Homo sapiens: one gene and its partners. The protein of the gene in region 2 interacts with the protein of the main gene of each other region in a pairwise test. Each region holds a gene or a part of one and is shown on either strand. Other genes may lie near its edges.

Region 1 (7,035 bases), on a different chromosome or scaffold from region 2:
TTCCTTATAATCCTAGAAGTAGACATACAGTATTATTGTGCCTATGTTATAGATGATGAAAGTGGGCTCAGAGAACTGACTTGCCCAAGATCATAGGAAGATGAAATAAAATCTGAAGTGTCCATCCTAGTGTCAAGTGGTAGGTGCTGACCAAATTTAAGTTCAAAAATGAAAACAAGTATCTAACTCATCCATAAAGAAGTGGAAATGGAGGACCATGAAACTTGCCAGGGGCTGAGCTAGGACCAGAACCTGGGGCCCTAAGCCTCGTGGCCCTGGCGTCTCTGAGCCAGACCTGTAGGTATGAGCTGCCAGGATCCAGGTGTGACTCGGGTATTTCTAGGGTGAAACCTAGGATTTCGAAACTGAGAAAAAAAAAAAACTTACAAAGCTAAGGTCCTCCATTGAGATGGTCTCACATAACATGTCACTCTAATAAAATATTTAAATACTTAGGCATCGAATTAGAGACTAAGCTGCAGCCACCCATCTTCCCCCGTCATTCCCCTCTATCCCCCCCAAAAAAAATTCTAGCTTTTTTTTTAACATTCAAATATCCATCAAAATCAAAGTTCCTTTTGAAGATGAAATTAAGCCAACAAGCACCTATGAAGTATAAGGGACTGTTCTAGGCACTAAAAGTATATACAAAGCTTAACAGTCTCTGCATTCAAGGAATTTCTAAGCACACGGTGGACAGCATAAACAGCCCAATAAATCCATGTACTGGGCAGCCTGGATTGAGCCACGACAGAGTTCTGGGGAGCAGAAGGGAAGACTTCAGGGAACAGGCACTAGAAGGCGGTAGAGATGGATTTTTGATGAGTGGAAGACAATGGGGAAGCTCATTATGCCTGGCAAATTAGTTTCTAGCATTTCAGGGACTGGGAGGAAAGGAAGGCAGTGGTGGGAAATTAAGTGTAGAAAGGTCAGATGTGGTCAGATGTAGAGGGCTGTCAAAGCTGGCTAAGTTTACAGTCTTTACAGTGTTGTATAGTAGATAATGAAGAAGGAGCATGGTTGGATTTTTGGATTATTTTGTTTTAAGCACAGAGACTACATGATTAGAATTGGAATTGGGACTACTACACTCTAGCAAAAGTACATAAAATGGATTACAGGAAGAACAAGAACCAACGGCAAGTGATTTATGGTTACAGTAAGTTACTTTAAAAAACTTCCCCCCTCAAGGATTTTTCTACTAAGAAAGGGCCCCTCAAGGATTTTTCTACTAAGAAAGGAAAGAAAGTTTAGTTAAAAAAAAAAAAAAGACAACTTGAGGTTCTATAGTGAACCTAAAAAGTAAAACTAAACAAAGAAAGCACAATAGGCCCTTCTCTAGCAATACTGCATGTTCTTGCCTGAATCTTCAATATTTTGTGTTTAAAAGGGGTTTTGTTGGCCTGGCCTGGTGGCTCACACCTGTAGTTTCAGTACTTTGGGAGGCCTGGGCAACATGGCAGAACCCCATCTCTATAAAAATAAATAAAAGGGTCCCAAACAGTATATCCTTACAGCTTCCAAGCAATGCTCAAATGAAATTATCCTGACAACTTCAAAAAGATGGAACTTCAGGGTCTCACATTAGAATAAAAAATAGATGTTATTGACACCTGGAATTGAGTTTTTCATTTTGTTTTCTTCCCACTGACAAAGAATTGAGGTTACTATCATATTATTTGATTCTTTGTATTCTGGAATTATTTTTGTATGGCAACAATAAGTATTTTGGCCTCATTTTGTAAAGAAAAACTAATGTTTAATATAAGATAGGCACATGTACTCCAGAACTTGAGAATCATTGTACCTTCTAAAGAATCAAAAATTAGCTTGATTTAATAAGGAGGTATTGACACTGTACTGAACACGGAGAACACTAAGTAACAAGGTACCAAATGAATCCAATACAAGATGTGAAAGCCTGCATTATACACCAGCAAACCCAGGGTCTGTAAGGCTGGGATTGTGTTAGGACCGGGGCAGGAAAACGTAGTCACTACAGACTCACCAAAAACAGGGACAGAAACTCACCCACAAATCAATATCAAAACAAGATGCAAAATTAAAGTAAATGTCATACCGGTTTAAGATGGAAATAATCGAGAGAAAGGGGGTACAAATTCTATGTATAATTAACCAAGACAACTAATCTTGCTTGGCAAACAGACACATAGCACTGAATCTGAGCCCAATCAACGGCTCCTGGCAATCTGCCAAAGCTGAACTCCTTAGTCTGGCACCATCAAATGATTTGTCTGTTGTATTTACAATTCCAGTGCCTCTGGATTCAGCTACCCACTGGGCACCCCTGGCAGATGCCCAGCAAAATAGATCTGAACTATCATTACTGTCAGAACATGTGCATTTGACAAACACTAGAGAAAAGCGACACCCGTTTCTTAGAGCAATATCACTTAACAACTACAAAGTGCTGCTACCAAGGAATTGTGGAGTCTGTTGCCGTAATAATTAACAAAAAGTTAATAACCTTCTCCATAATGTTAACCTGCAAGCTACTTCTTGGTCTTCAGTGGGCACAGATCAAAATGTAATTTAATTTACCTAGGGCTGCAAAGTTGGGTCAAAAGCAGAGGCCTTGCCAAACCAAACATGGCCCACAGGTGAGCAGCCTTCCAAGCTTTATCCGGAAGTACACAAGATGCTGGCAGTGCTTAAACTCTGCTCATTAGAGGTTGGGTAGAACGCCACCCTGACCTTTAAGCTTCCTCAGAGAAATCTTTCATACATGGTGTGTTCTTGGGATAGGGTCATAAAATGGAGGGCTGTTTGTTACTTATGAAATTACAAGTTTTTCCAGGAGATTCAGGAATCAGGAAAAATTTTACCAATTTTGCTTGAGCTGAAGCAGAAAGGTTAGAAAGGGAAATCATTCATGATACTCCAAAACCTTATGCAGAGACAGGCTTGCATAACTCCACTTAAGGGTGTTTATCAATTTTCAGTCAGAATTATATTTAAAATTCCCAAATAAAATGGTGATGCCACTGAATTAACCTACTGACCCTGGTCCCAGTCTGTCTGACCCAGCCAGCGTAGCCCCTTCTCTATTTTCTTTTTAATTATTATTATTATTTTTCTTGAGATGGAGTCTTGGTCTGTTGCCCAGGCTGGAGTGCAATGGTGCAATCTCGGCTCACTGCAACCTCCACCTCCCAGGTTCAAGCAATTCTCCTGCCTCAGCCTCCTGAGTACCTGGGACTACAGGCGCAAACCACCATGCCCGGCTAGACTTTGTATTTTTAGTAGAGATGGGGTTTCACCATGTTGGCCAGGCTGGTCTCAAACTCCTGACCTTGTGATCTGCCCGCCTCGGCCTCCCAAAGTGCTGGGATTACAGGTGTGAGCCACTGCACCCAGCCACCCTTTCTCTATTAAAGTACCTTTTATCCATCCCTTCCCAAGGATCTGCTCAAGATATCATCTCTCCAAATATGAAAACAACTGCTGAATGACTGAGACATTGGATAGATGTGACTTCTAATATCTCTCTAGCCCTAAAAACCCATATTATTAACATCCTGTATAGTTTTGATCACTTGTTCTGGTTGCTTCATTTTAAATTAACAGAGAAATTGGAGAAAACCCAAAGAGAAACAATGACTAATGAGCGTAAACGTGCACTTTTTAACCAGAAAAAGAGAAAGAATTGGTGACAACCACTGCACACTACACTCAACTCTCAGCTTAGTTCTTCAGGTGGTTTTGTAATCACTGGGCACTTCCCTTCCCCATCCACGGACAGGTCTCCCACAGTGTGCAGCACTGAGTGATCTGTGAATGAATTAAATCGATATCCCTTTATTATCCACTTCTCTGAAGCAGATAAGGTTATAGTGAAGTGGCCAGTGGCCCAAAATTGAGCAAAAGAAATTACAAATTAAACACACACACCCTCCTGCCTTTTTTGTTTCCAAATGTCATTCACAAAATAGACAAAAAACCCCATGAAAACTTGCCCATTGGAGAGACTTGTTTCACTGTCACTGGGACTGTATTCTGTAAATTATTACTGTGGAGTAATTTCCTTCCTACAGGAGCTAAGTTATTTTTAATACAAAAGCTTTTATAGGAATCCCTTACATCCTTACAGAAAGATGATCCAGAGCTTCAAACTCAGCACTCCTTCTCCCCAAAATACCTTATTCACAGTGTTCCAGAGCTTCAAACTCAGCAGCACTCCTCCCCAAAATACCTTATTCACAGGTAGATTTCTAAGATTCTAATTGCAGAGATACCATTTATGGTATCCAGCTCTCAAACTCTGTGCTCTAAGAGCTATAACTCTCATGGGCCCTGGCAACCATATTTGTGATGCATGGTTTCCACATGCCTCCCACTGTGCCAGACTACGGCTGATAGATCCCTTGAGCCAAGGTGAGACAATCAGACTTTCTCCCAGGCGATGAAAACAGGGATCCAGGAATGTTACTGAAGTCTCTGCTCATCTGCAACTAAAGGCTGAGGTGGCCATTGTGGGGCAGCCATCTTGAGCCATGTGCATGGGAAGGCAGCAAAAGCTGGATTGAAAAGAGGATAAGAAATGAAGAGCAAAAGCAGGGAAGCAAAGATGGAGGTCATGAGGCTCCTGAGAAAAGAACACACCAGCTGTCCTGGATGTTAAGGACTTTCTGCTTCCTAGTTCATACCTCTAAGCTTCTGAGAACCCTGACTGCATTTCTTGCACTTGGATCCTGCGAGATCACTTCATAGTACATTGCTTCATTTTTCCCTTAAAGTAGTTTGCAACCATGATAAGCTCCATTAAATAATGTATATTCCTGACCTCACATGAGAAGGGTGGGCCAAAACTGTTATTGCTCAACAGCAAGGAATAAACACACCACCTTGCAACACATCTTCTTTAATTCATAAATGTTTTGCTGTTTCATCATTCCTCCTTATTGTTTCCAGGGGAGGACCAATTGGTCTGTTCACAATGCAGTCCTCACAATGCCACCTTCCAGAGCTAGTCTGGTCAGGAATCCTACGAACAAACCCTATCAATAAATGTTTTCCTAAAAATAACAGTAGAAGCCGGGCGCGGTGGCTCACACCTGTAATCCCAGCACTTTGGGAGGCACCAAGGCAGGCGAATCACCTGAGGTCGGGAGTTAGAGATCAGCCTGACCAACAAGGAGAAACCCCGTCTCTACTAAAAATACAAAATTAGCCGGGCATGGTGGCGCACGCCTGTAATCCCAGCTACTCAGGAGGCTGAGGCAGGAGAATCGCTTGAACCCAGGAGGCGGAGGTTGTGGTGGGCCAAGATTGCGCCATTGAACTCCAACCTGCGCAACAGGAGCAAAACTCTGTCTCAATAAATAAATAAATAAATAAAACAGTAGGAAAACATCAGCACAGTACTCTATTTTTTTCTTCAAATGTACTCAACTGACCCACTTCAATGTTTGAGGGTTTTCTTAAGCCTAAGAATTAGTCAAGTGTGAATGAGACCATCCTACAATTCAAAGTATACGAAAGTATAAATTCGTTCATCATGGCACCACCACCCCTGCACAGCATCCCACACAGGCTGAACACTCCATAACATTTGCTGAATAAATGAAAGGTCGGAAGTAGGAGAGAATAAAAGGAAATAACACAGTCTCTGGAGTTACACAAATCTAGGTTAGGATCCCAAATTTCCCCTCTGGAGACTTAAAACACTGATGAAGGCTCGGAATTCTGCTAAACATTTCATAAACATCATCTTATTTAATGCTTCTTCCTCCAACAGCTTTACGGCATTATTTCCTTTCATTTTGCACCTGGTGTAAACCAAGCAACTTGCCTAAAGCCACGAAGTTAGTTAACACTGAGCCTGAGCTCCCAGCCCCCATTTAAACTGTTTCTTACCACTGACTTTGAAACTTTGGGCACAGTATTTAATCACTCAATATGTTTAAGACTGTGTTTCTGAAGATTAAGCAAGATAGTATTTGTAAAGTGCATAGCACAGTGCCAGACAATACAAACTGCTCAATAAAAGGTAGTTCTTCTTATTAGAGTCACTAACTAGTGAGTCTACAGTGAGCTGTTTGAAGCAGAGGGACTTTTGGTTCTAAAAATTATACATTCTCTGGAAAACAGCCATTTTCAAGATCTAGGCAGCCAAAGAAAAAGGAGCAAATTATGACCAATATTTATCTTGGATATGGTCTAAAATCTCCAAAAGGGAGTAGCGAGCGGATAAATCCTTTGCTAGCCTGAAAGCAATGATCATGCTTGAAGTTAGGGGGGGCCATACAGCTGTACATTACAGGAACCACTTCCCAAGGGGTCTTCAACACCCTTGGATTTTTCTCCAGCAAAGATGAGGTAGACAAATTCTGACCATTAACAACTTTCTTGGCAGGAAGCAGAACCATCTAATATTTCTTTCTATATTCTTCCACAATTTCAATTTTAGGTCCAGTGTATCTTTCTGTTTTACTCCCAATATCTTTGCTATTGTTTCATTGAGATAAAGGGCAATATTATTCAATGATCTTTCCAAGTCTAGCAAAGAACAAAAAAAGAAATGAAATTTGGGTAAGTGCATGAATAAGCATAACCTCAAGAAATTTAAAGTAGCTAAAAAAAATTGGTCTAAAACAAATGTACATATTGGCAATTGTTGAAATTGGGTGATGGGAGCTCATTATATTAGCCTCTTATGTTTATGTATGTTTGAAAATTTCCTTAATTAAAACTTAAAAATAAATTTAAGGGCCGGGCACAGTGGCTCAAGCCTGTAATCCCAGAACTTTGGGAGGCCGAGGCGGGTGGATCATGAGGTCAAGAGATCGAGACCAGCCCGGCCAACATGGTGAAACCCCGTCTCTACTAAAAATACAAAAATTAGCTGGGCAGGGTGGCGTGCCTGTGGTCCCAGCTATGCAGCAGGCTGAGGCAGGAGAATCACTTGAACCCAGGAGGCAGAGATTGCAGTGAGCCGCTACAGCCTGGCGACAGAGCAAGACTCCATCTCAAAAAAATAATAATAATAAATAAATTTAAAACTTTAGTTTTTCT
Region 2 (7,567 bases):
AATTAAATTCATGTGTTTCATTTCACCTTTTAATATGGGTAGCAGAAAATTTTAAATTACATATGTGGTTTGCATTATATTTCTATTTGATGACACTGGTATAGAGCAATGGTTCCCAACTAAGGATGACTTTGCCCCGAGGGGAAATCTGGCAGCATCTAGAGACATTTTTGCTTGTCACAACTGGAGCTAGTGCTACTGGCATCTAGTGGATGGTGGCCAGGGATGCTGCTAAAAATCCTACAACATATAGGACAGCCCTCCACAACAAACAGTTATCCAACCCCAATGTCAACAGTGCAGAGACCGAGAAACCCTGCTATAGAGAATGGTTAAAGAATGGACTCTACCTGGGCACAGTGGCTCATGCCTGTAATCCCAGCACTTTGAGAGGCTGAGGCAGGAGGATCACTTGAGCCCAGGAGTTCCAGACCAGCCTAGGTAACATAATGAGAACGCATCTCTACAAAAATGTAAAAATTAGGCAGGTATGGTGGTGTGTGCCTGTAGTCCCAGCTACTCAGGAGGCTGAGGTGGGAGGATCTCTTGAGCCTAAGAGGCCAAGGCTGCAGTGAGCCGTGATTGCACCACTGCACTCCAGCCTGGGTGACAGAGCAAGGCTGTCTCTAAAAACGAAACAAAACAAAACAAGAATGGATTCTAGAGTCAGAATGCCCAGTTTAAATACCATTTACTAGCTTTGCAACTTTGGGCAAACTCCCTAACATCTCTTTGATTCATACTCATCTATAAAATGTACCAATAACAGTAACTCCTTCACAGGGCTTGGGGGGATTAAATCAGCTAAGACGTTTAAGGTACTTAGAACAGAGCCTGGCACATAGTATGTGCTCAATAAGTATTAGACGATACGAAAGTTTTATTTACTCTATTTCATAAAAATTTTCTCATTAACTTTGTTATAGCTAACTCTCTACAATTTTGCCAATCTTGTTATAACTAACCTATTTTTATTTTAAAAACTTTTAAAATTTCCTTAAGTCGGGAAAAAGCAATCTTCTATCATGCATAGGTTGTAAATACAAACAGATATTATAGCAGAATCATTATTAAAGCACATCAGAAACACAACCTTCTTTTTTATTTTATTTTATTTTTTTTTGAGACAGGGTCTCTATTGCCCAGACTGGAGTGCAGTGATGGAATCTCAGCCCACCACAACCTCTGCCTCCGGGTTCAGCTATTCTCCTGCCTCAGCCTCCCGAGTAGCTGGGATTACAGTCGCGTGCCACTACCGCGCAGCTAATTTTTGTATTTTTAGTAGAGACGGGGTTTCACCATGTTGGTCAGGCTGGTCGTGAACGCTTCTCATGCAAAGCTCCTCACCCAGGTTTGCCTTAAGCAGGAGGTCCCAGTGTTTCAGCCCAGTAAGTACCTGTGATGTCAAAATGCTGTGATACTTACATATGGAAGCAGAAATCCCAGTCGATGTCATTGCTAACAGTTGGGATACGGATGGGGCTGGCTTGCATCTTCTTCCTACCAAGAATCAGGTAAGGTCAGCTTTGAGAGAAAAGGCTGGGTGTCTGTTCTATTTTCCCCCTCTGGTTTGCTATTAACATTAAACTAAAACTGCTCAAATATATAACCCATCCTAAATCCACAGACTACGCATACTTAGATATGGAGACCGCTGGAAAACAGACATTTGCCAAATTAAATGTCTAAGTTAAATTTCTTTCCCCTAATTTCAACTCCACCCTACTTCTCCAAAATCCCTGGCCTTTATGTCTCAAAGCAAGCACATTTACAGTTCCTGGGTCATCAAAACTATGGTCACCTACTTAACTCAGATATTGTTTTTGCAGGTCTGACGGCGTGTTGGATTTAAGCAAAGCAACCAACTCTCAGTGGTAAACGAAGCACAGCCAGTGTATTGGTTAATTCTGCTTTCCCCCCCCCCCCCGGGGTCATTTCACTAATTAATAGCAGATTCTAGTACAGGGGTCACGAGGCGGGTACAGAGGCTCACGCCTGTAATCCCAGCACTGTGGGAAGCCGAGGCGGGTGGATCACCCGAGTTCAGGAGTTCGAGACCAGCCTGGCCAACAGGGTGAAACCCCGTCTCTACTAAAAATACAAAATATAGTCGGCTGTGGTGGTGCACGCCTGTAGTTCCAGCTACTCGGGAGGCTGAGGCAGGAGAATCGCTTGAACCCGGGAGGCGGAGATCGCGCCACTGCACTCCAGCCTGGGCGACAGAGCGAGACTCCGTCTCAAAATAAAATAAAACAATAAAATGAAATTCATGTGTCTGTTTTAGTTGTTGCTGTTAGATGATAGGAGAAACCTCGGAAGCACAAAACGAAAAATGTGATTTCTAAATACAGTATTTGTGAAATTCAACTCTCAAGGAAGGCTATGCCAGTCGCTTAAATCAAACCCAAATCGAACGCAGTTACTTATTGAATGTTAACATCCACCAAGTCGCCTCTCCTTTCACCCTCCAGAATCACTAATTCCCACCGAGCCCTGAGTGGCTTTCTGACCCAGGCTCCAGAGCATCCATTATCCGAAAATCAGAAAGGGAGAGTCACTAATTTCTCTTTTTAACCTCCACTTTAAACACTATGCCCACAGCAAAGAGTTCTGATCTCTCAAACTCCCGGACTCTGTTCCTATGACGTTCCGCACGGCCCTGAGCCCCTCAAGGACGAATCGCTCCTCTTTTCCCGCTGTGGTTCTGCGGCAAGTCTGTAAGCCCTGACGCCGCAGGTCGAGCTCTGAGAGCCTCTCTGCCGCGGAGGCTCTAAGAGAACGCGCGAGTGCGCAAAGGGCACCTGGCTCAAGGCGGAGAAACCACGCCCCGGAACCAGCCTCCCAGCTCCCTGAGCCCGACGGCGCGGCTTCCTCCCGCTGCGTCGGCCTCCTGACCCTGGCGCACCTCGGTCCGGGCGCCAAAGCGGTGCCTCGCGAAAGCTGCACAGCCTGCGACGTCCCCAGTTACCTTCCGCAGCCCAGGTCCGGCCAAGGAGACAATACCGTTGCCATGGGAACGGAACGCTACGGGTTCTGCTGGGAGCGCCTGTAGCCATGGCGACGCGGGGCACTTCCGGTTCGGAGAGTCCCTGTTGTCTGGCGCCTACAGCAGCCCTTGCCTTACCCTCCGCTTTCCCTTCCCCGCAGGTTAGACGCGCCCGGCCTCCGGCTCGCCCCAAAACTGGCCTCTGCATATTGTATCTCACGAGACCTTACCCCTCGGAGGTGAAGGCGTAGGAAGAGAAGATACATTCCGTCCAAGGATGGAAGGGAGCGCCGGGCCCCACGGCCCTACTTATTTAAAGCTGCGACGTGTGCGGGCTGTATTCGGCGACGATCCTGGCCACGGTGCACCCCCACAGCTCCTCGGGAGTTTTGTTTTTATGGACCCCAGAGGAAAGGCTTAGATATGGCTGTTGACTGTGCTGGCACCGTCTGTGTTACCCAGTAAGATTGGAGCTAGGCATGGTTAGGAAAGCTGATTGCAGGAAGAGAGTAGGGTAAGAAATCGACTACTAGATCTGCTAATGGTTAGCTGTTCATTATTTATTTAGCACTTAGCCCTAAATAATGCAGCCATATCTTACCCTTTCGTTGGCATGGAATACAGTGTGTGTAATACACACAAGGTGCAGAGGCAATTGTGGCCATACCCAAAGAAACAGCGCCAGCTCTTGCAACGCTATGTTGAAGGATGTTATTATGAACCCTATCATAGACTAGGCCTATGGCAAGTCAAGTTGGAGTGAATGTGTCCCAGTTGTTTTCAGAAAAGAGCAGACTAGGTAGAGAGACAAGGAGAACATTGAGAATGTGAAAGATGGTGTTTACGTTTGGTGTTTGTTATTTCCAGCTCTAGGCTGGAAGTTTAATTGCCATTGATCCAAGACTGCCAAGAAAGCCTTTTTGGAGTTAGGTTGGAGGAGTTATTTAAATGAGTTTGCTTGAATATCTCTTAAGTAAAACCTGTATGGTCTGTTAACTCAAGATTTAAATCTGTACTTTCGAGCTCCATAGTCACAATTTTGGAAAGATTCCCCCACTTTATTCTTTTTCCTAAGAAAACTCTCAGCATGGAACAATGATGACAGCAATGAACCTGATTTCAGAATGTCAAGGTTCTGGTTTTGACTCTGTAGCCTGGGCCGAGTCACGGCCAGTGGGTCCCAATTTTCTTGCCTATACGGTGAAAGTTTTTGTACCACTTGCTTTCTGAAGCGCCTTCTGGTTCCAGGTTTCTGTAAGGGGTAAACGATTTTTGTGACTCTATGAACAGTATTTAACATGTATGGGAGTAAAAAGGAAGAACCTGTTTCCTGTTCTCCAACATTTATTTCTTTTACCCCTTGTTAAGTTGGTCATCAAATTGAAAGGTTTTAATGTTCTTTCATTCTAGGAAATGGCTGTGAGATTGTTTCTAAGTATATTAAAGGTAATGTCTCTTTTCTAAACCTTTGCTTTTGCTGATAATTGTGGAGAGAAGAACCAGAACAGGCACTGAATTCCCATTCCTAAAGCCAACGCTCTAATTCGGCCTCCATTTCATTAGCTCTGACCGGAAGCATGTTGCCTGCATCTGTAAAAATTATAAATCAAAATAAAATAACTTTGGCGACTATTTTTTTTCTTTTTTTGAGACAGAGTCTCACTCTGTGGCCCAGGTTGGAGTGCAGTGGTGTGATCTTGGCTCAGTGCAACCTCCGCCTCCCGGGTTCAAGCAATTCTGCTGCCTCAGCCTCCCGAGTAGCTGGGATTACAGATGTGTGCCACTACTGTCTGTCTAGTTTTTGTATTTTTAGTAGAGACAGGGTTTCACTGTGTTGGCCAGGCTAGTCTCGAACTCCTGACCTCAGGTGATCTGCCTGCCTCAGCCTCCCAAAGTGCCGGGATTACAGGTGTGAGCCACCGTCCAGCCAGAACTTTGAGGACTCTTGAAGTTTTTTGGTATTTCTTTCCTTGTCATGTTAACCCTGTCCCCCAAATGTAAGCTTTAGTTGTAGTATATACACTTTTAGGTTTGTTCACTAACTCTAGAATGGCATCCCACTAATCTAAGTGGATAGTGCGTTTCCACCGTGTGTATTCACATTCCCTCCCCTGATCCGGAGGTAGAGGTGGCAAGCATTGCTATTGCAGAAATTGCATAGAGGAAGCAGTATGGGGGGTTTTTCTAGGCTCTAACAACCCCAAATCAAATGTGATTATCTCCAAGCTATTCTTATCCCAGGAACTGTGAAATTTAAGGCAAGGAAATCCAAATAAACTTTCGCTTGGAACACATTTTTATGGCCTCTCAAGAGAGGGTTAGATGCCTTGCTTCTGAGCCCTCGCAGTACCCTGTCCACAATCTCATCATGACTCTCACATTGTACTGGCACTTCTGTTTATTTGCAAGTTTCTCCAATCTCCATACATCTATCCATCCACCCAGACAAAAATATTTGTGGAATACCTACTATGTGCCAGATAATGTTCTAAGCAGTAGGAAAGCAAAAGTGAACAAATAAGATAATGATTTTGCTTTCCAGGAATTTATATTCTACTAGATGAAGAAAAACAGAGCTGCTAGTAAACAGTATGGTGTCTCTGCAAGTTACAAAAAGGCAGAAGGCTTAGGGAGTATGCAGTGACAGTGTATGAATTTGGAAAAAGCCTTTTCCTCCAGCCAGACTCAGACCCCTGCTAAGGAGTACAGCTTTGGGAACAGAGAGTGGGCTGGATTTCAGGACTCACTGACTCCCTTAGCCAGAAGAGTCACCTTAAGAAAAAGTGGGCTGGGCACAGTGGCTCACGCCTGTAATCCCAGCACTTTGGGAGGCCAAGGCGGGTGGATCACCAGATCAGGATTTCGAGACCAGCCTGGCCAACATGGCAAAACCCCATCTCTACTAAAAGTAAAAAATTAGCTGGGTGTGGTGGCGGGTGCCTGTAATCTCAGCTACTTGGGAGGCTGAGGCAGGAGAATTGCTTGAACGTGGGAGGCAGAGGTTGCAGTGAGCCGAGATTGTTCCATTGCACTCCAGCCTGGGTGACAAGAGCAAGAATCCATCTTAAAAAAAAAAAAAAAGAAAAAAGAAAAAGAAAACATGATAAACAGTTATGGAGAAAAATAAAACCAGGTAAGGGATTTAGAAGGTGATGTGGCCATGGCGGGAGGGGTGTGCCATCTTACATAGTGTAGTTAAACAGGGCCTCTCTGACAAGATGACATTGAGAAGATACCTCAAATCGTGCAACAAATTGTGCAAATATTTAGGAGAAGAACATTCTAAGATGTTAACAGCAAGTGCAAAAGCCCTGAGGCAGGAACAAGTTTAATGGGGTCAAAGAACAGCCAAGGGTAGTAAGAATGAGGAGGAAAGAGACAAAAGACTGTGTCAGTAAAGTGGTGGGGCATCAGGTCATGGAGGGCCTTATAGGCAATTCATCCGTCTAAATATTCATCTACCCACTCAGTGAATACAGAATACCTGCTAGGTAGCAGGCCCTGATTGGCCAGCTATGAGCTCCTCGTGAGCAGGAGTTGTTATCATTGAGCCTTTAGCATTCAGCACAGTGCCTGGGATATATCAGTGTTAAAAAAGAAAAACAAAACAAAAAAAACACATAAACTACAAATGACCTTTAGGAACTCCATTAGTAGAGATTCTCCCTGTGTGTATCAGTTTCCTATTGTTGCTGTAATGTCACCACAAACTCAGTGGCTTAACAAACCACAACTTTATTATTGTATAATTCTGGAGGTTGAAAGTCTGAAATGGGTGTCACTGGGCTAAAGACAAGCTGTCTGCAAGGGTGGCTCCTTCTGGGAGCTCAAGGAGAAAATTTTTTCTTACCTTTTCCAGCCTCTAGAGCCTGGCTGCATTCCTTGATTTGTTCTCTTCATCTTCAAAGCCAGCAGCAATGCAGCATCTTCAAATCTCTGACCCTTCTTTCCATTTTTAAAAGACCCCTCTTGTTATACTGGGCCCACCTGGATAATCTTATTTAAAGGTCAGCAGATTAGCAGGCTTAATTCTATCAGCAACCTTAATTCCTCCTTGTCATGTAACTTATTCACAGGTTAGATTCACAGCTAACATATTCACAGGTTCTGAGGATTAGGACATGGATGTCTTTGGGAGGACTTATTCTGCCTACTAGAGTGTGTAACTTAAATGCATGGTTTTAAAAACATATGGAGGTGACACATAAGGAGCCCTCTTCTCCTGGCTGTTAGCAGCTTGCATCATTTGACTGTGTCCTGCTTCTTTCCATCCCTTACTGATATGGTTTGGCTGTGTCCCCACCCAAATCTCATCTTGAATTCCCACATGTTGTGGGGGGAACGTGGTGGGAGATAATTGAATCATGAGGGTGGGTCTTTCCTATGCTGTTCTTGTGATAGTGGATAAGTCTTACAAGATCTGATGGTTTTAAAAACGGGAGTTTCCCTGCACAAGCTCTCTCTTTGCCTGCTGCCATCCATTTAAGACGTGACTTGCTCCTCCTTGCCTTCTACCATGACTGAGAGGCCTCACTAGCCACGTGGAACTATAAGTCCATGAAACCTTTCTTTTGTAAATTG
Region 3 (7,035 bases), on a different chromosome or scaffold from region 2:
TTAATATTTTTAAACTTCATAAAACATAAGCACTTATAATTAAAGACAAGTCACAGACTGGTAGAAGACACTTGTAAAGCACATAACCACCAAAGAATGTATTTTTTTATTTGTATCCAGAATCTAAAAGAACTCTCAATAAGAAAAAAACTTAACTACTTATTTAAAATAAGTAGGGGACTTGAATAGAGGATACCTGAATAACCAATAAACATATAAAAGATATTTAAAATATTCAAATTCACTAGTAACTACAGAAATGCAAATTAATTTTTTTAAAAATAGAGGATACTATATACTACACAACACACTTGATTGGCCAATATTTTTAAATATCATATTATCCAGTATTGGCAAAGACTGAAAACTCTTGTATATTGTTGATATATGAGTATAAATTATCACAACTACTCTAGAAAACAATTTGGCAATATGTAAAAAGTTGAAAAGATGTCATAATTGTAGCAATGCCATTGCTAAATACCCTGGAGAAACTTTCATACCTGAACAAGGAGACAAGGGCAACATTGCTTGAATATCTCAACAAATGTTCAACATGGATTCAATAAATATTTATTGGGCATCTTCTGTTGTGCCAGGCACCAGAGATACAGCCCTGGCAAAGAGAGACCATGATGCTACTTTCAGGAGATTCTATTCCTGTGAGAATAGGAAATGGGAATAGGGAAAACAACGTGCATGGCCATCCAAAGAGGGATGGCTGTGTCCAGGCTGACCAGCTGGCACCACTAGGAAGACCACATGTGTTGTTAGAGCCGCTGCACATTCTGATGGGTCAGGGCAAATGAAACACTGGTCATTAACTACTTTGAATATTACCTCTGGGATAAATTGTAATTTATTCATCCAACAGGATATTATTCTATACTTACAATGAATTAGTTTTGCATGTCTTCATGTGCGTAAATCTCAAAAACATAATGTTGCATGAAAAGCAAAGCTATAGAAAGGTATCATTCATGCTAAACACACATACTCAAACTACTATTGTTTAAGGAGGCATACTTGTGAAATAAGGGTATTAAAAATATGGATGGGATCAACATATATCAAACACGCACCAGCTTCAGGATAGCAGACGCCACTGGGATGAAGAGAGGCATGGGATGAAGGGGAAGTCTTTAAGGAGTGTCTGCTCTCTTAATGATATTTTATTTCTTATTTAAAAAAAGATCCATCATTCTCAGCAAACTATTGCAAGGACAAAAAACCAAACACCGCATGTTCTCACTCATAGGTGGGAATTGAACAATGAGAACACATGGACACAGGAAGGGGAACATCACACACCGGGGCCTGTTGTGGGGTTGGGGGAGTGGGGAGGGATAGCATTAGGAGATATACCTAATGTTAAATGAAGAATTAATGGGTGCAGCACACCAACATGGCACATGTATACATATGTAACAAACCTGCACGTTGTGCACATGTACTCTAAAACTTAAAGTATAATTTAAAAAAAAGTAAAAAAAAAAAAGATCCAAAGCAAACATACAAACTATTGTCATTTATTAAATCTAGGTGGTAGAACTACAAGCTGCCTATATAACTATTTTCAAACATTTATGTATGTCTGCAATATTTTATAATTATTATTTTCTCAATTTTAAGGGATTCTGTTATCTAAATACTTAATACTTTCACTGTATGGAATCAAATCAACTGACTATAGTTGCAATTCACTTAAAATAAACAAACATGAAAAATTTAATTTTTAAAAAACCAATTAGAGAGTTATTAATCACATTAAAAATGTATTCAGTATTTTTCTGAAATCTATTCCAATTCAGAAAATAGAATGTTTTATGATGCAATTAGAATTATTCAAATTATAATGTGATTTGTATTTAACTTTTCTAAAATATTCCTAGTTCGTAAATCAAAGTACACCTGTTAATTCATCTTTTCTGTACACATTTTACGGATTTCTCTGAGAATAATTTTAGATGCAAATTAAAGTTGCTAGTTTAAAAAGGAATTTTTCCCCCAAGGAAAGAAAGCCTTACAGAATTGTCACAAGCAATGGGATGCTCATATTCTTCCATCCAAAATTCACATCATATTTCATTCTTCAAATTAATCTGGAATATAAGTGTACTGCAAACAACTTGGAAAGAGAATACAGTTTGCTGCTTTTAACAAAAGTTAACTAGAAAGTAAACTAATAATTTACATACAGAGTAGCATTGATGTCTGTGTACCAACGTCCATCAAAGCCTGCGTTACTTCTCTTGTCTTCATTTTTATCCTCTTCTTGGTGTTTCCTCTGAGCCTCTTCCTTGAGTTTGGCTCGTTTAAGACAGTGATCTTTTTCCTGCTCTCTGATTTGTGGTTCAATTACTGAATAGTCCTGCAATGCCTTAATCCTTTCTGAAGGCTCTATTTCTTTACCATCCAACCACTTAAAGAAAAACAATAAATATAGTACAATTGTTCAAAAGTAGCAGTGTGAATCAGCCCCAGGTTGATTTTGATTAGAAATAATAATATACCCGATAGTGATAGAGAATTAAAACAATATAATTAATGGGAAATATCAGAACATTGTTCTAAATTAATGTATATTTCATATAATTTACACAGTTTAAAAAATACCTTTACTAGTAATAATAATAATTAGGTCTGTTAAAACTGATAATTAATACAAGCTCTCAAAATATTTTCTATTAATTTTATAATTGCTCACTATGTCAAAAATGTCAATGCTTAAGTCAAATCATAGCTTCAAAGTACAACAATGGCACTTCCCAAAAGCTCTCTACAGAAAAAAAAGGCCTTGAATATTACACATGATTGGGCTCTAATACAAATGAGCCCATGTTTCACCCTTAACAACAAGACAAACAGATAGGCTATTGTTACAGCATTGTTTACATCTGATACTTCAATTATGATTTTCCAAAGTAAAATATTAAAATAAAAGCATCAACTAAAGTTCTAAAATGTTAAAGCTAACAGTTTAAAGATACCTATTTATCTACCCTGCCTTATTCTGCAAAATGAGGTGAGGTATTTAGGAAGGGGTGGTTGGAAGATAATGGTTCCCCAAGAATGTCCATGTTCTAATCTCCATGAATGTTACCTTACATGGCAAAAGGGGCTTTACAGGTGTGATTAGGTTAAGGATCTTGAATGATCAGGATGATTCTTATAAGGACCACAGAGGTCCTTATAAGTAAAAGAGAAAGACATGAGTGTCAGAGTTAGGGAGAGAGGTAAAGTTGGCACACTGATGTCTTTGGAGATGGAGGAAGAGGCCATGAGCCTAAAAATGCAGGTATCCTCTAGAAGCTGAAAGGGGCAAAGTAAGGGATTCTCTCCTAGAGCCTGAAGAAAGAATAACCCTGCCAACACCTTCATTTTAGCCCAGTGAAACCATTTCAGGCTTTTGATCTCCAGAATCATAAGGTGATACATTTGCATTGTTTTAAGTCACTAAGTTTGTCTCAATTTGTTACAGCAGCAATAAGAAACATAAAAAAGGAAAAAAAAATACACACAAAGATTTAGTCAAATATAAATTAAAAAATTATTAGAATCAGCTGAATTATAAGTCAAAATTATGTAGAGATTTGGAAAAAAGATAATGCCACATATGCTCTGGTCATAAGGACTCATATGGTTGCTATAGATGGGCTGCAGATTTGGTTCTGAGCTTCTTGGCAGCCAAAGCGAAATAGAAAAACATAACTAGTTACACAATTTTCATGGTCTTTAAGGAAAAAATAAAGTTTGTAGCTTTCCTCTAACATGCAGCTCTAAAACACATTTCTAGCACAGAGTTTCATAATGGAGATATTGAGAGATGTCAAGCATTGTTTCTGTAGAAATATGGCCATACAGTCACAGGTTTCATAAGGCTGTTTCTTGTAGTATCCTTCAATAAAGGTATCTTCATACCATTACTTATGAGACCATAATGATAAATTCAATGCAATAAAACCTATTATTTAAGGCATTAAGTAATTGTGGTCCACATACTTAATTTGATCTAATTTAATACAGGATTGGGATCAAATCAATTTGGAAATTTTTGGATAAATGAAATTTACTTATTTTGTAAGTATATATAAGTAAATACACTGATATAAATATATGAATCAACATAAAAGTAAATATATTTATATATAACTAATACTATATAAATAAAGCACTTTCATAAATTTCTGTTAAGTCATCCAGTTTGTGGCACTTTGTTATATTAATTTATATAGTATAATTTATATATAAATATATATTAACATAAATACATTATATATAACTGTATATTATAACAAGCTAGAAAACTCTAGATAATTTCTTTCAACTAGGATTTCTTCCCAACAGAACCCTGGGGAGCAAGGTGATCTTTTCTTCCTTGTAATTGAAGTACATTAATTGATTGATTGATTGATTGATTTCTGTCTTATAAATGATGTAAGTCTATTTTGATTTAATTAGAACTACATTCCTAAAAGGCTATGACAACTGAACCCTCTGTCACTTTACTGACAGGAGGCAAAAGACCTCATATTAATAACTGATGACAAATTTGGGACTGTACCCCAGCACCTATTCTAGGAACCTCACTTTTTTAGTGATTTCTGTTAGTCTTTGAAATTGGCCCACATTTCCTTCAATCCAAAATCATGTCTGAGTTTAGAAGGCCTAAGAATCAGAGATCCAGTTTTAAGCTGAGCGTTTCTTGATCTTTCTTCACCCAGGATTCCTGCAGCACAAAGGTGGAGTGTCCACACTTATTGATAATAACTGTGCAAGTGCTGAAGCAGAGAGAGGGACACTAAGATGTACTGAAGGCCTCACAGAACTCCCTTGAAGTAGGAATTATGATCCTACTATACATGAGTAAAATGAGGCACACAATTCACAGGCAGTGGAAGCAGGGGTCAGACCTTGGTTTGTCTGCTAACAAATCTGTTTCCCACTATACTGCAGGGCCCACCTACTTCTGGAGTGGCTCAGACACTGGGAAGAAAAACCTTGAAAAGGGCTGACTCTCCTCACACCTCTTCTATGTGACTATCTAAAATAACTACTCTGTTGTTTTGGGTTGAATTGACAAAAAAAGATGTTGAAGTCCTAATCCCCAGTAGCTCAAATCATGGACTTTTGGGAAATAGGGTTATTATAGATGTCCCCTGACAAAAAAAGATGTTGAAGTCCTAACCCCCAGTAGCTCAAATCAGGGACTTTCTGGAAACAGGGTCACTATGGATATAATTCACTGAGACTAAATTATCCTGGAGCAGGTGGGCCCCAAGCCAATATGACTGGTGTCTTTATAAAGAGTCTTGTGAAGAGGAAGGCAGAGACCCTCAGGGTAATGTGTCTACAAGCTCAAGAATGCCAAAGATTGGCCAGCAAATCAGCAGAAGCTAGGAGGGAGGGCATGAAGCAGATTCTCCCTCGCAGCCCCTGGAAGGAACCAGTCCCGTCAACATCTTGAACTTGAACGTCTGGCCTTCAGAACTACAAGATGATACATTTCTGTTGTCTAAGCCATCTAGTTTGCAGTACTTTGTTACAGCAGCCCTAGGAAAATAATACATTTATTAACACAATTCCTTTTAAGCAGCTCACAAGCTTTCAATGAAATGGTAATTAAGACTCTAAAGCATATCAACCTATTTTTACATAGTAGTAAACATATGAATACCATTTTTCAAAAAGGGGCTGTTTTCTATTGAAGCAGTTAATTTGGAGAAGTCTTTCTGAAAGGAAAGACTTGATCCAAAGCCTATAATTTAACCCGGAGAGAAGCAGTGAATGTGGGTATAGTGTGAATGGTGGAGGCATCAAGGTCCGACTCACATAGGTTCAGATCCCACCTGTGTCACTTGCCAGATATGTCAGCCTAAACAAGCAGTGTTCATTCCCTGAGCCCTGACTTCCTCATCTCTGAATGTACCTAATTGTCTCCCTGAATGGGTCTGGGAGGATCAAAAACACTGTGCCCAAAGTACCTGGCACAACCTCTGACCCTGTCTGCAGCAGCCATATGATGGCTCTCACACCTCTAGCCTGACCAGGCTCAGCTGCAGCACTGACACAGGCTCAGCTGCGGTGGCCATGAGGACTCCTGGACCCTTAGCCCTTCCAAGGGAACGGCTCACAGCATTACACTACAAGATCTAGTCCTATGATAGTCTGGGTCTCATCAGTTCATTTTCTAGGAAATCACTGTATAATAATGATCAGTTTAGGTTATGTATGAGACAATTTATCATTTATTCTATATTCAATTACTTGAATCACTCATTCTCTTAATCTGAGAAATTTTACATTAGAAGAAATGTGTTCCATTAATCCAGCAGTCAGCAGTCTCTTGACTGCAGAGAACACAGAAGTCTAAGAAACAAACGTCCTTTGAGAACTGAAAAAATGCCTATTGAACAGGCGATGTATCCATGCATTCTCTTTCCAGGAACATGGAGCCACATGCAGGCTGGGAACTCTTAGAATTACATGAAACGTAACATTGCTATCTTAATATTCTCTGTTGTATGATTTCTCAAGAAATAATATTTTTTCCTCAGTTCTAAAATTACTCGATTGGGGGGATATGGTATAAGAGTAACATACGCAGTAGTGGTTGTCAAATGAGGTTCCTGCACCAGCAGCAGAATTACCAGATTTTGTTAGAAATGTGAAATCTCAGGCCCCATGTCAGACCTGACCCAGAAACCCTGGGGGAGGAGCACAGCAGTCTGTGTTTTGAAAAGGCCTCCACGTGCTCTGATGCACACCAAAGACTGTGAACCTGCCGGGCACGGTGGCTCATGCCTGTAATCCCAGCACTTTGGGAGGCCGAGGCAGGTGGATCACCTGAGGTCAGGAGTTCAAGACCAGCCTGGCCAACATGGTGAAACCACATCTCTACTAAAAATACAAAAGTAGGCAGACATGGTGGCACATGCCTGTAATCCCAGCTACTTGGGAAGCTGAGGCAGGACAATCACTTGAACCTGGTAGGCAGAGTTTGCAGTGAGCCGAGATCGTGCCACTGCACTCCAG
Region 4 (3,946 bases), on a different chromosome or scaffold from region 2:
CGCCCGCGCCGGGCTCTCTCCCGGCTGCGAAGTCCGCGGTGCGGCCCCTCTGCACCCACCCGCCGCAGCCCCGCCCCGGCCCAAGCAGATTGGTCCTCAGTGGCGCCCCGTCCCTCCCCCGGCTAAGTTTCATTGGACGTTGCGGAAGTGGCGGTTCGTCGAGCCCCTCTGGGGGCGGGGCTTCTAGCGCGGAGGGGCGGGAGGCGGAGCCAGGAACCAGCAGGACTCCCCTGGGCGCCTCCAGCAGCCGCCGACCCCGAGGGCCCGACGAGCCCTGTAGGTGGTGTGGTGACCGCCGAGCTGACTTGGCGTCCCAAAGCCTCCCTGGCCGTGACCCTAGACCGCATCGGCTTCTTCGTCTACCAAGCAGGGCTAACAGCCCTCACGGAATTGTTTTGGGAAAACGATGAAAGGAGAAAATGGATGCAAGCTTTAAGCCACACAAAAGCTGGTTACCATGGACAGCGCTGGCTCGAGTCTGTCGGCCACGGAAACACTGCATGCTTGGGCCAGTAATGATTTAGGACGAGTATTTTATTAGATTTGGTACTTTACAAGATTCAAGTTCTTAAACTCAAGATCTGGCATCGTTCCCTTCCCTGCTAACCTTCAGTCCCGAATTAAACGCAGACGTCTTGACCCGCAGCCCAGCTGCTCTCCAGCCTCGCTGCTCCCTCCGCTCACAGCTCCGCATCCTCTGCCTTCCTCACAGGCTTCCGTCCGCACCCCCGTCCTACCGGCTGACACTGTCCAACTCTCCAAGACCCATCTCAAATCCTACCTCCCGCAAACCCTTCCTAAATTTCCTCACCTAGGCCTGCTACAGCGTTCTTATTTTCCACATTTCTTTTCTGGCTCTCGGACTACTCAGCTGCCAAAGCGCATCCATTGCTGTACTCCCTCTCTGCCTGGCCTACTTCAGTGGAAAAGCATGAGGACGGGCTGCGCTCTGCTCCTCACACAATCCCCAGCCCAGAGCACCCTGCTTATTTATTGAACATAACAGTGCAGGCCGGCCTAGGCTTCCCATAGGCAAGGATGACTTTCAGAATGTTCTAGAAAAAAGGATACTTCAGGGGGCCCATAACTGCTTGATTCAAATCTTTCCTTTAAAAACATAAAAACAACAGTTGGACTTCTAAAACACACACTGAAGACATACGCGCTGCCACGTAAGCTCTCCACATGTTCACTTTGCCTTCAGGGAAACTGTGTGCACATCAACGTGCCCTGGGAAAGGCTGCAGGGCTGCACTGCGGGCAGTTCAGATCCTAGAGCACTTGCTCTGGCCTGGGAGCGCTGCAGGCAACTGAAGCCACACAGACCCTGCTCCTGCAAGAACTTTTGTGTGTGTCCCATGGTGATGTCATTAGTTTGCTTATTAATTATATTTATATAAACTTCTGGTCCTGTTTTAAATGTCTGAGATTGCAAGGTCAACTGTTATAAACCTGTCATCACTTCCATCTATGTATCCAAGACTAGGAGAATTCTCCAAATCAACTGAAACATAAAAATAGATGTTAAAGTTGATTTTAACCCAAATTTTGTATTGATCAAAACAGCTTCATTGTTCTTTATAACAAAGAATTGTTATAAACTTGAATTTATGTAACAAAACAAAATAACCAATTTTATATTCGCTTTACATATTGGGGTTCCACAAAAAAATTTTAATTTGGGGGGAAAAAAGCTGTATTTCAAAACATTAAAAAAAAAAACCACCATCATGGAAATCTTAGGATGAAATGGCCTTCTTAATGGAGAAAGGCAGGAGATAAACCATCCAGCAGAGGGCTCTGTGTAAAAACATTTATTTTTACTAATGTTTAGAATACAGGAACTAAAGAAAGAAAAAAAAAAGACACCTCAACTCCAAAGCGACAGTGAGTTAGGGCCTGCCCACGGCCAAGGGGGAAGGCTACTCCAGGGTGTCCTGGCATGGACTGTCCCCCCACTACTTAATGTCAGTGCCACTAAGCAGAAAACTTGAGGAATCAGGGTGTGAAGACCTTACCAGCTGCTAGCGAGCGTGCAAGGGAAGAAAGGGATGTCTATGTGGCTTCCCCATGAGCTGAGAGCCAGGATACACGGGGCAGGTGGCAGAGGCTCCCAATTCAGTTAAGAGCAGGAGGCTGAATGCCCAGGTCCAGGAAGAACAAAAAGGGGATTTTGGAGGTAGGCTTTTTTGTTGTGTTAAAAAACAGGCACATTATCCATCTCCTTGTGGCCCCCGAGCTGCTGGCCTGGCCCCCTGATCCTTCCCCTCTCCCCACAAAACCAAAAGGAGTAGGAAGGGAGGCAGAAGATGAGAAATTCCAAGGGTGGGGAATGCTTCAGTCACTGGAGACCGACCGTAAGAGTGAGCCAGGAGAGCAATGGGAATAACAAGGTGAAGCTACTGTTCCCCCTGGGGTGGGGTGGAATGGGACAGGGCAGAACCAGGAGGGTGACCGAGAACATCCTGACTCCAGAAAAGAACACTCTGTAGCAGGAACACAGGGCCGCAGAGAGCCACTCTGGAGGAAAGAGGTGAGGCTATGCGGCACAGGGGCATGAAAAGCTCCTTGTGGACGTGGCCTCAGCTTGCTCGCTCCCAGCTCCCTGGCCTGGCTTGCCTCTAGAGGACAGGAAAACTCTGGAGACCAGAGGGGAGGCAGAACACAGAGAAGTGAGCTGCTCTCCCACTCTTTCTAGGAGGACACTGTTTGAACCCTGTGATCACCAGGGGCTGGGCCCAAGGCAAGCAGAGTGAATGCACTTAATGGAGAGCAGAGAGAAACTGGGCCACACGCACGCCTAGGGGCAGTGTGTTGCTCCTTTCTCCCTGAGGGCCTGGGGCCAGAGGTGGTCAGAGCTGCCACCTCAGCTTGCAGCTGCCAAAGGCAGGCTGGCACAACCACCCCAAGGTTCTCTGGATTTGTGAAGGAGAGGAGGAAGAAGGGAAAGATGGGTATGAAATATGAAGTGGAGGAGAGAAACAGCCTTAGATATGTCGGGGAGCAGGTGGGTGGCCACATCAAGAGGAGTTCTGGTTCTGGTAGATGGAAGCTTTCTCTTTCAACAGGTCCAGACACAGGTGGCAGCTCCAACTTCCTGCAGAGAGGCAAAATGGGGTCAGGATGGGTCCCACACAATCCCCACCTGCTTGCAATTCCTCTGCTCTTGATACCCCATCTCTATAGCAGGATCAGCTACAGGTAGGACGAGGGATGCTCTGCAGCAGGAAAGTTCCATGGTTTCCTGAGCTGGGATAAACCTCTAAGTCTTCAAATATTATGAAATATCATCCTCTATGGAGATGAAAGAAATAATCATCTAGAGGACTTCAGAATACTGATGCCCAGGCCCTCTTGGCCCTATTAAATCAGAAGTTTTGGGAGTAGGAAGAGGGCCTGGGAAGACAGAAGTTTGTCAAGCACCTCAGTTTTAAGACTTGTGTAGTTTCACTAAAAAACACAAAATAATTGTCCCTTATATGAAAAACAATTGGGTCATTCCTTGTTTATTAATATTGACTATGGCTGAATTCTTCTAATTTTTTTTGAATAAAATTAGTCCTTAATGCCTTGAAATGATAAGCAAAATTATACCTATGCGCATTTGGACATTATTCTAGGGCTTTTATCAGCTCTTCAGAAACAGGTGACTCAAAAATGTAAGTCCTTTCTAACCCAAAGGTCAATACGGTTGGCAAAGTTTTCTGTAAAGAGCCAGAGTGTTAAATATTTTAGGGTGTGTGAGCCACATACAGTCTCATGCATTTTTTTTTTAACTCCCTTTATTTTTTTTTTTTCTGAGACAAGAGTTTCCGCTCTGTTGCTCAGGCTGGAGTACAGCAGTGTGATCTCAGCTTACTCTAACCTCTGCCTCCCAGATTCAAGCAATTCTCTTGCCTCAGCCTCTATAGTAGCTGAGATTACAAGCGCACAGCACCACGCCCAGC

The links.
Region 1: the proteins of TTC23L (region 2) and EGLN3 interact in binary tests that used the Homo sapiens proteins (3 or more experiments, as listed by UniProt).
Region 3: the proteins of TTC23L (region 2) and DNAAF11 interact in binary tests that used the Homo sapiens proteins (3 or more experiments, as listed by UniProt).
Region 4: the proteins of TTC23L (region 2) and DPF2 interact in binary tests that used the Homo sapiens proteins (3 or more experiments, as listed by UniProt).

What each region holds. Positions count from the first base shown.
Region 1 is NC_000014.9:33,941,040-33,948,074, forward strand, and holds part of EGLN3 (prolyl hydroxylase EGLN3), read right to left. Parts: intron 1-7,035. UniProt on the Homo sapiens protein: Prolyl hydroxylase that mediates hydroxylation of proline residues in target proteins, such as PKM, TELO2, ATF4 and HIF1A. Target proteins are preferentially recognized via a LXXLAP motif.
Region 2 is NC_000005.10:34,834,598-34,842,164, reverse strand, and holds the start of TTC23L (tetratricopeptide repeat protein 23-like), read right to left. Parts: upstream 3,002-7,567; 5' UTR 2,906-3,001; exon of another isoform or gene 2,802-2,905; intron 2,785-2,801; exon of another isoform or gene 2,531-2,784; coding exon of another isoform or gene 2,511-2,530; intron 1,501-2,510; coding exon of another isoform or gene 1,494-1,500; coding exon 1,426-1,493; intron 8-1,425; exon of another isoform or gene 1-7.
Region 3 is NC_000008.11:132,630,542-132,637,576, forward strand, and holds part of DNAAF11 (dynein axonemal assembly factor 11), read right to left. Parts: intron 2,423-7,035; coding exon 2,199-2,422; intron 1-2,198. UniProt on the Homo sapiens protein: Involved in dynein arm assembly, is important for expression and transporting outer dynein arm (ODA) proteins from the cytoplasm to the cilia. Acts as a crucial component in the formation and motility of spermatozoal flagella.
Region 4 is NC_000011.10:65,350,833-65,354,778, reverse strand, and holds the end of DPF2 (zinc finger protein ubi-d4), read right to left. Parts: intron 3,097-3,946; coding exon 3,020-3,096; 3' UTR 517-3,019; downstream 1-516. UniProt on the Homo sapiens protein: Plays an active role in transcriptional regulation by binding modified histones H3 and H4. Is a negative regulator of myeloid differentiation of hematopoietic progenitor cells. Might also have a role in the development and maturation of lymphoid cells.